4 linked regions of the Homo sapiens genome follow. The protein of the gene in region 2 interacts with the protein of the main gene of each other region in a pairwise test. Each region holds a gene or a part of one and is shown on either strand. Other genes may lie near its edges. The genes, in order: PPM1J, PTAFR, SPATA24 and PLLP.

Region 1 (3,051 bases), about 85 Mb from region 2:
TTGATTTCTACGGGTGGAGGGGGTAGGGGGAGGGTGACTGTGTGCTGGAACCTCTCCTTCTACCCACCTCTGACCCTTCCTTATGTGGCAGGATGAGCAGATGGCCCGGGAGCGGCGTGGCCACCAAGTGGAGGGGGGCTGCTGTGCACTGGTTGTGATCTACCTGCTAGGCAAGGTGTACGTGGCCAATGCAGGCGATAGCAGGTATGGGGGAGGGGGCTCCAAGGTGGCGACAGAGGGCCACACTCTCTGAGTTGGGGGAATACAGGAGAGTAAGGTGGCAGGGGTTAAAAATCAAGATTGGAGGGAGTCAAGAGGGGTGACAGACATAAGGAGTGGCCTGAAATATCCATTGGGTGGGGTCAGGGGCAGATATGGGGGTCTGGGTAAGAGATCTGAAAGGTCATTATGGAGAGGGCCTGGTCTTTCTGGAATTTTTCATGAGTGGGTCTGAAGAGAACCAGGTCCCAATTCCTTTTCTTTCTTTGGGCAGGGCCATCATTGTCCGGAATGGTGAAATCATTCCAATGTCCCGGGAGTTTACCCCGGAGACTGAGCGCCAGCGTCTTCAGCTGCTTGTAAGTAGGAACCAAATTCCCTACCCCCATTCTTTGTCGGGTCTTGTGCCTCCCTGCACCCCATGGCCCTGAGAACTCTCACACCCCCACCACAGGCACAGAAAGCACTTTACTGGGAAGGCCGCTGTGTGGACTATGGAGTGCGGGGCTGAGCCGGTGGGAGGTTGCAGCAGGGAGGCTGCAGCACTGGGCTGGTCCAGTGCTCCCACTGTGGCCCCAGCTGAGGCAGGAAGTAGAGACTGAGGTGGGGGAAGGAAACAGCAAAGGCCCCTGAAAGGCAGTCCGGCTTAGTGCCTAAACGCATGTGGCTGTGGAGCTGGAAGCCCGGGATGCATCCTGGTCTGAGTGCTTTGCTAATTGTGTGACCGGAGCAGTTCCCTCCCTTAACCTCTCTGTGCATCAATAGTTCCTGCCTTAAGGGCTGTTGTGAGGAGTAAATGAGTTAATATTTGCTAATATTAGAATAACGTGTGGCACATGGTAAACTCTGTTTAAGGGTCTGCTGTAGTCAACGTCATCTGTGTGCCACCGTGTGCTGTGAGCATAATGCCCCCTGGCTCTCTGTTCTGATCATCCCCAACTCCAGGGCTTCCTGAAACCAGAGCTGCTAGGCAGTGAATTCACCCACCTTGAGTTCCCCCGCAGAGTTCTGCCCAAGGAGCTGGGGCAGAGGATGTTGTACCGGGACCAGAACATGACCGGCTGGTAACACTTCCCTCAGAGCTGGGGCCCGTTCCCATGGCAACACAACCAGTCCCTCGCCCGCAGCAAGGTGGAAGCTGGAGGCTGGGAGTTGGGAGGATGTGGCCCTTCTAAGGGGTTTGTGTGAGGGTATGCAGCTCCTAGGGGAGAGGGGCTTTGATGCCTGGGTGATGCCTCCTCTACTCCCCCCTCCCCAGGGCCTACAAAAAGATCGAGCTGGAGGATCTCAGGTTTCCTCTGGTCTGTGGGGAGGGCAAAAAGGTAAACTCCATGGTAGAGGTGGGAGAGGGGAGGAGGACCTATCACAACTTGTCTAGGGAGGTGGAGGTTCTACCTGAGGGTAGGGGTGGAAGGGATCTTTGGTTTCAGAGAATCTAGCAGAGGACTACAGTGGCACTCCCTCCTCATTTCTTTCAGGCTCGGGTGATGGCCACCATTGGGGTGACCCGAGGCTTGGGAGACCACAGCCTTAAGGTCTGCAGTTCCACCCTGCCCATCAAGCCCTTTCTCTCCTGCTTCCCTGAGGTGAGCCCCTTAAACCACACCTTGCCTTCTCTGGGAGTCTCAGGCCAGCTTTCATCTGCAGTCCCTTTATCTCCAAGCTCCCTGTCCAGCAAACCCCACACCTCAATCCTCTCTGCCCTTTTCTCCCACCAGGTACGAGTGTATGACCTGACACAATATGAGCACTGCCCAGATGATGTGCTAGTCCTGGGAACAGATGGCCTGTGGGATGTCACTACTGACTGTGAGGTAGCTGCCACTGTGGACAGGGTGCTGTCGGCCTATGAGCCTAATGACCACAGCAGGTAGGGGCTGCATGGCATGGTGGTAAGGGGATGGCATTGGTGAAAGAAGGGTCAAAGGGAAGCAATGCTTGGGACCCCACATGTGGGCCTGTGTATCTGTCTTCCCACATACATGTTGGTACATGAATGTGCATGTGTGCTCCTGGCAGGTATACAGCTCTGGCCCAAGCTCTGGTCCTGGGGGCCCGGGGTACCCCCCGAGACCGTGGCTGGCGTCTCCCCAACAACAAGCTGGGTTCCGGGGATGACATCTCTGTCTTCGTCATCCCCCTGGGAGGGCCAGGCAGTTACTCCTGAGGGGCTGAACACCATCCCTCCCACTAGCCTCTCCATACTTACTCCTCTCACAGCCCAAATTCTGAAGTTGTCTCCCTGACCCTTCTTTAGTGGCAACTTAACTGAAGAAGGGATGTCCGCTATATCCAAAATTACAGCTATTGGCAAATAAACGAGATGGATAAAGGTGTGTGTCTGTATTTGCTTTGACTAGAAACTGAAAGATAAGAAGAAAGCTCTGTGGGGTGGTGGAAAGAGCACCAGAACAGTTCTAGAAATGTGGTGTCCCCCAGGTTCTTTATTCCACCCCCACTCTTTCCACTCCACGCATTTGCTGTGAGTGTCATCATCCACTTCTGTGGCCTCACCCATCTGCCCAGACCCTTCCTGAGCTTTAGACCCACACATACCAGTCATCTCCCGAATGTCTCCTGGATAGCCTGCTGGCACTTCAATTCAAATACCTCAAACTAAATTCACGACTGCCCTCCATAGCATGTTCCTTCTCCTGGTATATCCCCTCAATGGGCACCAGCTCTGCTGCTCCAGTTAGAAATCTTGGAGTTGGTCACCCTTGGCTTTCATTTCTTTCTCATCAAGGTAATTGATCACTAAGTATTGTTGACTATAGACCTTTAAAAGTATTTCTCTACTTATCTCCATCTCTCCCCGCCTTCAGTCACCAC
Region 2 (4,576 bases):
ACAATGGGGAAAGAATAGTCCCTTCAACGAAAAGTGCTGGGAAAGATGGATATCCACATGCAGAAGAATGAAGATGGGCTCTTATCTTACACCATATATTATACAAAAATTAACTTAAAATGGATTAAAGACCTAAACATAAGACCTGAAACTATAAAACTCCTCAAAGAAAACATAGGATAAAAGCTTCTTGGCGGGGTGTGGTGGTTCACGCCTGTAATCCCAGCACTTTGTGGGGCTAAGGTGGGCAGATCACCTGAGGTCAGGAGTTGAAGACCAGCCTGGCCAACATGGTGAAATCCCGTCTCTACAAAAATACAAAAAGTAGCCAGGCATGATGGCGGGTGCCTGTAATCCCAGCTACTCGGGAGGCTGAGGCACGAGAATCACTTGGACCAGGGAGGCGGAGGTTGCAGTGAGCCAAGATCGTGCCATTGCACTCCAGCCTGGGAAACAGAGCAAGACTCCATCTCAAAAAAAAAAAAAGCTTCACAACAGGCCAGATACAGTGGCTCATGCCTGTAATCCCAGAACTTTGAGAGGCCTAGGTAGGAGGATTGCTTGAAGCCAGGAGTTTGGGATCAGCCTGGGCAACGTAGCAAGATCTTGTTTCTACACAAAATTTAAAAAATTAGCTGAGCACGATGGCATGCACCTGTAGTCTCAGCTATTCAGAGGCTGAGACAGGAGGATACCTTGAGCCCAGGAGCTCAAGGCTGAAGTGAGCTATGATCATGCCACTGTACTCCAGCCTAGGCAACAGAGGGAGACTCTGTCTCTAAACAACAAAAAAATTAATTAATTAGTTATTTACATTAAAAACAATAAAAAGCCTCATGACATTGGAATGGGTCATAATTTCCTGGATATGACACCAAAAGCACAGGCAACGAAAGCACAAATAAACTATTTTTTGGCAAACTTTAAATAATCTCCATGAAGCAAAGGAAAACAATCAGCAGAGTGGAAAGGCAACCTGTGGATGGGAGAAAAGGCAACCTTTCGGATGGAACCAGATATCAGATAAGGGGTTAATATGCAGAACTCCTACAACTCAGTAACAACAATAACAAAAAATTCAATTTAAAAAATGGGCAAAGAACCTGAATAGACATTTCTCCAAAGACGATATACCAATGACCATAAACATGTGAAAAGATGGCTCAATATCACTGATCATCAGAGAAATGCAAATTGAAACCATAATGCAATATCACCTCAAACCCACTGGAATGGCCACTATCAGTAAAACAGAAATGTGTCAGCAAGGATGTGAGAAATTGGAACTTTCGCATAGTGTTCGTGGGATTCCAAAACGGTGCAGCCACTATGGAAAAGAGTATAGAAGCTCCTCAAAAAACTAAAATTAGAATGATTATATGACCCAACAGTTCCGCTCTGGGTATACTATATATTCAAAAGAACTGAAAACGGGATTTTTTTTTTTTTTTTTTTTTTTTTTTTTTGAGATGGAGCCTTACTCTGTCGCCCAGGCTGGAGTGCAGTGGCACGATCTTGGTTCACTGCAACCTCCGCCTCCCGCGTTCAAGCGGTTCTCAGCCTCCCTAGTAGCTGGGACTACAGGCACCCGCCACCTCGCCCGGCTAATTTTTGTACGTTTAGTAGAGACGAGGTTTCGCCATGTTGGCCAAGCTGGTCTCTAACGCCTGACCTCAAGTGATCCGCCCACCTTGGCCTCTCAAAGTGCTGGGATTACAGGGATGAACCACCACGCCCAACTGAAAACCAGATCTTTTTTTTTTTTTTTTTTTTTTTTTTGAGATGGAGTCTCGCTCTGTAGCGCAGGCTGGAGTGCAGTGGCGCAATCTCGGCTCGCTGCAAGCTCCGCCTCCCGGGTTCACGCCATTCTCCCGCCTCAGTCTCCCGAGTAGCTGGGACTACAGGTGCCCGCCACCACACCCGGCTAATTTTTTTTTTTTTTTTTTTGTATTTTTAGTAGAGAAGGGGTTTCACCGTGTTAGCCAGGATGGTCTCAATCTGCTGACCTCGTGATCCGCCCTCCTCGGCCACCCAAAGTGCTGGGATTACAGGCGTGAGCCACCGCGCCCGGCAGAAAACAGGATCTTGAAAAGACATTTGCACATTCATATTCATAGCAACATTATTCACAATCATCAAGCGTGGAAACACCTAACATGTCCATGGACAGATGAATGGATAAGCAAAATGTGGTATATACATACAATGGAATATTACTCAGCCTTACAAAGGAAGAAAATTCTGACACATGTTACAACATGGATGAATCTTGAAGACATTTCTGCTAAGTGAAATAAGCCAGCTCACAGGAAGACAAATACTATATGATTCCACTTATTATATGAGACATTTAAAGTAATCAAACGCATAGAACCAAAAGTAGAACGGTGGTTGCCAGGGGCTGGGAGGAGGGGAAAATAGAGAGATGTTCAACAGATGTAGAGTTTCAGTCATGCAAGATGAAAACATTCTTTTTTGTTTGTTTGTTTGAAATGAAGTCTCACTCTGTCACCCAGGCTGGAGTGCTGTGGCATGATATTGGTTCACCACAACCTCCGCCTCCTGGGTTCAAGCGATTCTCCTGCCTCAGCCTCCCGAGTAGCTGGGATTACAGGCATGCACCACCACACCCAGCTAATTTTGTATTTTTGGTAGAGACGGGGTTTCAACATGTTGACCAGGATAGTCTCGAACTCCTGACCTCAAGCGATCCACCCTCATTGACCTCCCAAAGTGCTGGGATTACCAGCATGAGCCACTGCGCCCAGCCAAGTTGAAAACATTCTATTGGCACTCGCAGGATTTAAAAAAAGAAAAGAAAAGAAAAGAAAACATTCTAGAGATCTATTATACAACAATGTGAATATAGGTAGCATGACTGAACTATACACTTTAAAAATGTTAACAGGGACCAGGCACATGGCTGGAATTACGTGGCCTGTAATTCCAGCACTTTGGGAGGCCAAAATGAGTGGATCACTTGAGCCCAGGAGTTTGAGACCAGTCTGGACAACATAGCAACACCCCAGTCTCTATAAAATAAATTTTTCAAAATGCATGCTAAGAGAGTAAATTTATGTTACGGTTTTCACCACAGTAAAAAAAAAAAAAAAATCAATGGGCCTAAGAGACGACAAATTTGAAAGTACATTGTGTATTTTTAAGTTAGAGTCATATGACTCAGTTTATGACTTAAAAGCTATGCAACCTTTGGTAAAACTGCTTGCCGCCTTCGGGCCTCATTTGTAAACCACATCTCTTTCATCAAGCGAAATAAAGGATGTACAGTATTTAGAGAACAGTGGTTAAGAGCACAGACTCTGGAGTCAGACTCTGTAGTCAGACAAACCTGGGTTCAGATCTTACCTCTCTCACTTCCTACCACAGAACCACAGCCAAGCATGTCCTCCCTCTGATTCTCAGGTCCCTCACTGAAAATGGAGCTGATAATACCCAGGCACATACCTCTCCAGAGTGGTGTGAAGAGTCAATGAAATAATGTGTATAAAGTCCTTATCAGGGCTGGGCGCAGTGGCTCATACCTGTAATCCCAGCACTTTGGGAGGCCAAGGCGGGCAGATCACTTGAGGTAAGGAGTTCGAGACCAGCCTAGCCAACATGGTGAAACCCTATCTCTACTAAAAATACAAAAATTAACCAGGCATGGTGGTGCATGCCTGTAATCCCAGCTACTCGGGAGGCCGAGGCAGGGGAATCACTTGAACCCAGGAGGCAGAGATTGCAGTGAGCCAAGATGACGCCATTGCACTGGAGTCTGGGCGACAGAGCGAGACTCCATCTCAAAAAAAAAAAAAAAAGAAGATGCCTGGTCTGGTCTACAGTGAGAGCTCATTGAATGTTGGCTATTGTTACTCTTACTTCCCTACCCCAGACAGAGTTGGAAATTCCACCTCAAGTTCCCATAACAATCTATCACATTGCATTATCATAGCTGTTGATTTCTCTCTCCTTTTGGACTGGGAATTCCCAAGGGCCAAGGCTTCTGGCATATCACCAATACCCATCACAGGGCCTCCTACATAGCAAACACATGAGAAATACTGACTAAATAGACAGGTGAGCCTCTGTACACACACAGTCACAGTGTCCCTCACTCTTCGCTTCCAAACTCTCACACCCCAGCTCTAGCCACTCCCAGCTCTTAGATTCGCTGGGGCCAGTCCCACTTTCCTCATCTATAAAATGGGAATAGCATCAACATTGAGGCTGGAAAGGTGGCCCACATCTATAATGCCAGCACTTTGAGAGGCTGAGGTAAGAGAATTGCTTGAGGTCAGGAGTTTAAGACCAGCCTGAGCAACATAACCAAATTTTGTCTCTACAAAATTAAAAATTAAAAAAAAAATTAGCCAGGCATGGTGGCACATGCCTGCAGTCCTAGCTACTATGGAGGCTGAGGCTGCAGGATCACTTGGGTCCATTACAGTAAGCTATGATCATACCACTGCACTCCAGCCTGGGCAACAGAGCAAGACCCTATCTCTTAAAAATAAAAATAAGGGCCCGGCGCGGTGGCTCACGCCTGTAATCCCAGCACTTTGGGAGGCCAAGGCGG
Region 3 (3,488 bases), on a different chromosome or scaffold from region 2:
CAGGGCCTCAGGAAGGTACTACCACTGGCTGGACCCACTGCCCTCGGTGGGACCTATTGGAAGGAGCTGGAGTGGACAGCTCTAGCTTTCAGTCTGCCTCAGCACCTAGAACAGGCCCTGGATACCGATGTGGGGTCCTACAGGAAGCTTCGAAGTAGCTTGTGGTCCCAGCTCCAAAGGCCCCTGCGGCCAGAACAGCCCTGTGCTCCCCCAGGTATTCACAAGGCCCTAACTTCAGCCCCCACAGCCTTAGGACCTGCCCTGGGGACAGGCGCTGGTGGGGAGGCAACCACCACCTGTCATTGTCTTACAACTGTGGGCACCACTTGCCCTTAAACTTCTGGCTTCAAGGTCCTGCTATGACTCAGGCCCCAGCTGGCCCTGGAGCAAGAGCACTGCCCCCTCCTGTGCACTTGGCCTCAAACCGACCCAGGACAGGCTACACTGGGCTAATCTGACCCCTGAAGTGGGTCCTCTGCCTGGGTGTGTCCCCATGATCACCTAGGGGGCACTCGGTGATGGCTTCTGAAAAAATGTTGCTGCTCCATCCCATCCAGCCCTGCCTGTGCAACTTGTGCAAATTGAGGTCCCTTCCCAGATTGTTTCTCCACCTTAAAACCACACACAGCATTGTCTTTTCTCTTCCTCCCATTGTGAAGCTCCCGTTTGGGGGAGGTGTCAGCAGGTGCAAATGCAATTTGCAGGTATAACATTATTGTCATGTGATGGAAACTGACTTCCCAAATTCCTTGTGGTTCTGGAACCCACTGTCTTTGAAGTTTCTGGTCAGGGCTTCCGGCCCTGTAGTCAAGTTGGGAAGTTAAATTTACCAGGACACTGGGAGTGGGGTGGAATATTACTGGGTAACCAGGGCTGTTTATATAGGAAGGGATTAAATACCCAAAGGAAGCGGTGGTGCCTACCAGACAACAAAGACCCAGCTCCTCCCCTAGGCTACAAGCCCCCACCTTGTGGACCCCTACCACTATCCAAGAGGGAGGGAAGTAGCAGGGGCTAGAGGCTGGGGACTCCCAGAGCAGAGAAGGCAGAGGCTGGGGATTACAGCCAGAGAACAGGAAAGCGGCGGCCATTTTATTTTTCCCTGGGATGCTGGTGGCTGCGGGCCTGACGTGTCCCTGAGGCTTTCTTATGCTTCTGGTCCAGCACCTGGGCCATGTAGCTCTCCTGCTGCTTCTGGATCCGGAAGTCAGACATGTGATTCCTGCAACGGAGCCGGCTGGTGGTGGGCTGTGGACAGCCAAGGGTAGGTAGGGGCCAGAGGTCTGGCTCCCCAGTGTCATCAACAACCCCCAGCCGGGCCCAGACCCCTCACCTGAAGATCTGTTTCTGCTGGCTGATAACTTGCTGCAACTCTTTAATCTCATTCTCTTTGCCATTAAGTATATCTTCTTGCTTTATAATGTGAGACTCAATCTCTGTGGGGGAGAGAGGCAGGGAGGAGGGGTGGTTCCCATCCCAGGGCTCCTTCCTGAGATAAGGCATTCCCTCACGGGGCTTTTCAGAGCTTGGCTCCCCACCCAAGAGTTCTCCATGAAGAACTGCTAATACCTTAGTATGAATGAGTTTATTATGCAGTCTTGGGGGAGTGCAGTGTTTGAGGATTGTTGTCAATGACTTCACAAGTCTATTCTGGACCAGAGGACCCACATGAGGGCAGGAGAAGGTCCTTGGAGAGAAGTGGGCAGGCCTGACCAAAGGCTGGAAGATGAATGGCGCCTGCCCTCAACTCCTGCAGGTCTTTACAGATGTTGCCTCCTTGGAGAAACTCTCCCTCATCAAAAAATTACATTTCCCAGTACTTCCTGTTCCCTCTTCCTGCTTTCTCTTTTTTTTTTTTTTGTATTTGAGACTGAGTCTTGCTCTGTCGCCAGGCTGGAGTGCAGTGGCATGATCTTGGCTCACTGCAACCTCCACCTCCTGAGTTCAAGCAATTCTCCTGCCTCAGCCTCCCGAGTAGCTGGGATTACAGGCGCCTGCCACCACGCCCAGCTAATTTTTGTATTTTTAGTAGAGATGGGGTTTCACCATGTTGGCCAGGCTGGTCTCGAACTTCTGACCTCAGGTGATCCACCCACCTCAGCCTCCCAAAATGCTGGGATTACAGGCGTGAGCCACCATGCCCAACATCCTGCTTTATTTTTCTTAACACTTTTACCTAACATACCATATACTTTACTCATCTGTCTTCTCCGCTGCTGGGATGTAAGGTCCACAAGGACAAGGATCTTTGTTTTATTCACGGCTTTATCCCTAAGGCCTAAAACAGCACCTGGCACATAGTAGGTATACAAAAAGTATATTTGCAGACCGAATGAACGGGATGTCCCTGGGGGTTTAGGACTCAGAAAAAAGACCTAGTTCAGTCATCCCAGTCCAAACAAACTTCCCGAGGGCTGGCTGGATGCCCAGCCTTGTGCTAGGGCTTCAGGGGTGGTGGGAGAAGATGGGAGTTGCCTCGATTTTCAGACCTGTTTCCTCATTTCAAAGATGGGGAAAGAGACAGCCCTATCCCACAGTGGTCTGGGGAGGACCCAGTGAGATAGTGGTGGCAAAGCCTACCCCCAAATTAATCGTACATTTGAGGCAAAGATGACTTTCTGAGGCAGGAGGATGGCTTGAGCCCAGGAGTAAGAGACCAGTCTGGGCAACATAGTGAGACCTCGCCTCTACAAAACTAAAAAAAAAAAAAACAAAAAACTAGCTGGGCATGGTGTTGGAACATGCCTATAGTCCTGGCTACTTGCTGAGGCAAGAGGATCACTTGAGCTCAGGAGTTGGGGGCTGCAATGAGCTATGACTGTGCCCCTGCACTCCAGCCTGGGTGACAGAGCAAGACCCTGTCTCTAAATAATAAATAAATAAATAAATGATAATTTTTCTGTGTTGGATCAAAATCCAAGGAGGCTGTAGGGATCTGGGGGTGCTTCATTTACATAACTGCCCCACATGGCACCTTGGAAAATTCTGATTCCTACAGAAAGAAAATCCTACTGTCTTCAAAGGTTGGACAAGGGGCCAGGCACAGTGGCTCATGCCTGTAATCCCAGCACTTTGGGAGGCCAAGGCGGGTGGATCACCTGAGGTCAGGAGTTTGAGACCAGCCTGGCCAACATGGTAAAACCCCGTCTCTACTAAAAATACAAAAATTAGCTGGGTGTGGTGGCACATGCCTGTAATCCCAGCTACTTTGGAGGCTGTGGCAGAAGAATTGCTTGAACCCAGGAGACGGAGGTTGCAGTGAGCCGAGATCGTGCCATTGCACTTCAGCCTGGGTGACAGAGCGAGATTCCGCTTCAAAAAAAAAAAAGGCCAGGCGTGGTGGCTCACGCCTGTAATCCCAGCACTTTGGGAGGCCAAGGTGGGTGGATCACAAAGTCAGGAGATGGAGACCATCCTGGCTAACACGGTGAAACCTTGTCTCTACTAAAAATACAAAAAATTAGCCAGGTGTGGTGGCGGGCACCTAT
Region 4 (3,500 bases), on a different chromosome or scaffold from region 2:
CTACTAAAAATACAATAATGAGTTGGGTGTAGTGGCAGGCACCTGTAGTCCCAGCTATTCGGGAGGCTGAGGCAGGAGAATGGCGTGAACCCGGGAGGCGGAGGTTGCAGTGAGCTGAGATTACGCCGCTGCACTCCAGCCTGGATGACAGAGCACAAGAAGAGCTCTCAGATGCACCAAGTATGAGAAAAGCAACTTGCTGAACAAAGGATACAGAATAAAACTATCAATGTTTTCAAAAGTGCACAGGAAAAAAGACTAGAAACACCCCAAATAGTTGTCCCCTTAGGGACAGAGGTGGGTAATCCAACTACAGCTTTAGTGTAATCTGTACAGGTTTTTTTATTTTGTGAGGAGAATGTATTCATATATTCATAATGTAATTACACATTAATTCCCAAACACTCAATACTCCCCCCCTTGCAGTAAGTGGGGAGTGTGGGGGGAACTAACAATACAAGGCATTTATTGCTCTGTGCAGTGGAGCTGGGTTGGATGAAGATATTGGGCATGCGGGGCCTGGAATGCTGTACTAAAAAGACTGAACCACCCACAAATCTCAGTGCTAAGGGAAGCCCCGGGAGTCTCAGACATTGCAATCCGAGTGTGACCAAGCCCTGCTCACACCTCACTCGGACTCCAACAATCTCATCTAGGTAGCCCCTTCCTGGAGACCAGAGTTGGCTTTCAGTCCCTGCCCTGCCCTTCATCTGCAGAGGAGCTGGTCTGCCTCCTGGGGCCGGAGACAGAGCCGGTATCACCATAAGGAAGAACTTTCCAACACTCCCAAGTGCCCAAGGATGGAGCAGGCAGCCTTAAGAAGAACTGAGCTCCCTGTCTCTGGAAGCATGCAAGTTCATGTTGGAGATGCTGCAAAGGCACCTCTTATGCTTGCATAAGAACCCTCGGATCCTATAACCCTGTGAATCCAAACTGTCCTTCATTCCCACATATAGTGCTAGGCTAGCTCTTTGCAGGCATGATCTAGATCCTGCCATCACCATCTGACAGACAAGGAAGTGAGGCTCAGGGAAATTTGGGAACTCCCCCAGGATCATGCAGCCAGAAAGGGACAGAGCCAGGATTTGAACCCAAGGCTCTCAGCGTCCAGGCCTGTGTTCCCATCAGCACTCTCCATGCCACCCCATGGATCATGGAGATCTAGGGAAGGCTTCTCTTCTTCTTCTTCCTTTTTTTTTTTTTTTGTTAAGAGTAGAGGACTGGGTACAGTGGCTCACACCTGTAATCTCAGCACTTTGGGAGGCCAAGGCAGGTGGATTGCTGGAGCCCAGGAGTTCGAGACCAGTCTGGGTAACATGATGAAATCCCATCTTTACAAAAAATATAAAAACTTAGCCAGGCATTGTGGCATGTACCTGTCGTCCCAGATACTCAGGAGGCCTGAAGTGGGAGGATCGTCTGAGCCTGGGAGGTTGAGGTTGCAGTGAGCTGTGATCACACTACTATAGTCCAGCCTGGGTGACAGAGCAAGACCTTGTCTCGAGGAAAAAAAAAAAAAAGTAGGGGTCTTACTCTGTCACCCAGGCTAGAGTGCAGTGACGTGATCATGGCTTACTGCAGCCTTAAACTCCAAGGCTCAAGCAATCTTCCTACCTCAGCCTCCCAAGTAGCTGGAACTACAGGCATGTGCCACCCTGCCACCTGCCTAGCTAGGTGAGGCTTTTGATCTGTTATTCACCTGCAAAGTGGGAATTGTGTGGCCACCCCCAATCCCAGGAGGTGGGGCAAAATGGAAGGACAGAAGGTACCAAACCAAATGGCCTTACCGCCACAGGGCATTCACACAGCTTCCACATCCTGGGCCTCAAGGACGCCTACTGACTGACAGGTCTCTGTACAAGCTCTGGTCTGTCCTGATCCTCCTTCTCCCTTCCTATGCCAGGAAGCCCTCCCTGATGGCCTTGGCCCCTGATGAGTCTCCCTTCCTGCAGTCCCCCTTTTCCCCCTAGAAAGCACTCTAGAACTTCCCACCCCCAAAGTAAACAAGATGAGGAAGCATAGCTAGAGCCAGGTTTTGGATTTCCAGATCGAAGTGCAAAGCCAAGCTTGCCACTCTATCCTGTGTGACCTTGGACAAGTTCCTCACCCTCTCGGAGCCTATTTACTTATCAGTAAATCCAGATAAGATCATCCTTCTCCCCACGGCTTGGGGAGGCTTGAAAAAATGAGAGATGGGCACCTAACAGCACTACTTTATACTTATTGTAAAAAGGCTTTGGGAGCTCCCCATAAGCAAATAACCACGCCTTCTGCATTCTTCCACCTGAGCTACACAAAAATCTGTAGCACTGATGCCTTTTTTTTTTAAAACCAAAAGAGTTATCTGTAGATCAAACTTGCCTGCCTTGTGACATGAATCCATTGGCAAGAGAAAACAAAACAAAACAAAACAAAGACCTGCCTCCTTTTTTAGACGCTATCTGCATAGATTCTTCATGTTTCCCTTTTTGCCTAGGCTGCTAGGAAGTTCAACAAATAATCAACAGCCTTAAACTTGCTGCAAGTCAATTCTCCCCTCCACACCACCAGCTTTTAAAGATACATCGCTTTAACTCTTCTGTCTTATGTGGTTTAATATCATATTCCATCTGGTGTTCTTTCTGAATCTACAAGGAATAACGATAGTGATAAATCAATGAACACCACCAGACATCTGTGAAGAATACTGAGATTGGTTCTTCAGGACACATTCTGATACCGAATGAAAAGTGTATCTCCTTCTCCAGGAGCTGGGAGCCTTTCTACCCACCTCCCCTTCCTCCCACCATACCAGGAACATTCATCAAATCCTGGGAAACAGAAGGGTTTGATGGAGAATTAGCTTCCATTTTCTCATTTATTTCCTGCTCCATGCAGCCTTCTCTGATCCCTCTGGGAGAAGCACATCCTCTGGGCACCTCTCTCACTGACCAAGAGCTCCTGGAAAGCAGGCTGTGGGCCCAGGGTCCCCACCACTCCCTCCATAATGACAGATCCTGGGAAGGTAGCAGCAAAGCCACACGTGGTCATTAAGACCATAGGCCAGAAAAGTCAGAAAAATCACTCCTGTGGAGGAGGGCTGTGAGATCTTGGGCAAAGAACTGGCCTCTGAGCCTCAGTTTTCTCACCTAAAATGGGGCCGACTAAGAAGATCTAAAGGCCTTGGCAAAGGGCCTGAGCCTAGTGCTGGCCTGATAGATGGGAGCTACCATGGCTTCCCAGCAGATGGTGGTGCCTGTTGGATTAACCCCCACATATCCCATTTCAGACCCAGTGGAACTACCTGTTGCCAGAGAAACAGCTCAGGATGCAGCTTCTCCAACAAGCAGATTTTTTTTTTATTTCTTTTTTTTTTTGAGACGGAGTCTCTTTCTGTCTCCCAGGCTGGAGTGCCGTGGCGCCATCTCGGCTCACTGCAAGCTCCACCTCCCGGGTTCACGCCATTCTCCCGCCTCAGCCTCCCGAGTAGCTGGGACTGCAGGCACCCACCACCATGCCAG

What was found.
Region 1: the proteins of PTAFR (region 2) and PPM1J interact in a two-hybrid assay, tested with the Homo sapiens proteins (one large-scale study listed by BioGRID and IntAct).
Region 3: the proteins of PTAFR (region 2) and SPATA24 interact in a two-hybrid assay, tested with the Homo sapiens proteins (one large-scale study listed by BioGRID and IntAct).
Region 4: the proteins of PTAFR (region 2) and PLLP interact in a two-hybrid assay, tested with the Homo sapiens proteins (one large-scale study listed by BioGRID and IntAct).

The regions. Positions count from the first base shown.
Region 1 is NC_000001.11:112,709,498-112,712,548, reverse strand, and holds the end of PPM1J (protein phosphatase 1J), read left to right. Parts: intron 1-91; coding exon 92-204; intron 205-493; coding exon 494-578; intron 579-1,164; coding exon 1,165-1,283; intron 1,284-1,477; coding exon 1,478-1,541; intron 1,542-1,697; coding exon 1,698-1,805; intron 1,806-1,937; coding exon 1,938-2,089; intron 2,090-2,238; coding exon 2,239-2,386; 3' UTR 2,387-2,551; downstream 2,552-3,051.
Region 2 is NC_000001.11:28,166,198-28,170,773, forward strand, and holds part of PTAFR (platelet-activating factor receptor), read right to left. Parts: intron 1-4,576. UniProt on the Homo sapiens protein: Receptor for platelet activating factor, a chemotactic phospholipid mediator that possesses potent inflammatory, smooth-muscle contractile and hypotensive activity.
Region 3 is NC_000005.10:139,395,708-139,399,195, forward strand, and holds the end of SPATA24 (spermatogenesis-associated protein 24), read right to left. Parts: intron 1,720-3,488; coding exon of another isoform or gene 1,646-1,719; exon of another isoform or gene 1,571-1,645; intron 1,437-1,570; coding exon 1,334-1,436; intron 1,249-1,333; coding exon of another isoform or gene 1,223-1,248; coding exon 1,093-1,222; downstream 1-1,092. UniProt on the Homo sapiens protein: Binds DNA with high affinity but does not bind to TATA boxes. Synergises with GMNN and TBP in activation of TATA box-containing promoters and with GMNN and TBPL1 in activation of the NF1 TATA-less promoter.
Region 4 is NC_000016.10:57,278,173-57,281,672, forward strand, and holds part of PLLP (plasmolipin), read right to left. Parts: intron 1-3,500. UniProt on the Homo sapiens protein: Main component of the myelin sheath that plays an important role in myelin membrane biogenesis and myelination. Plays an essential function in apical endocytosis. Regulates epithelial development through the regulation of apical endocytosis.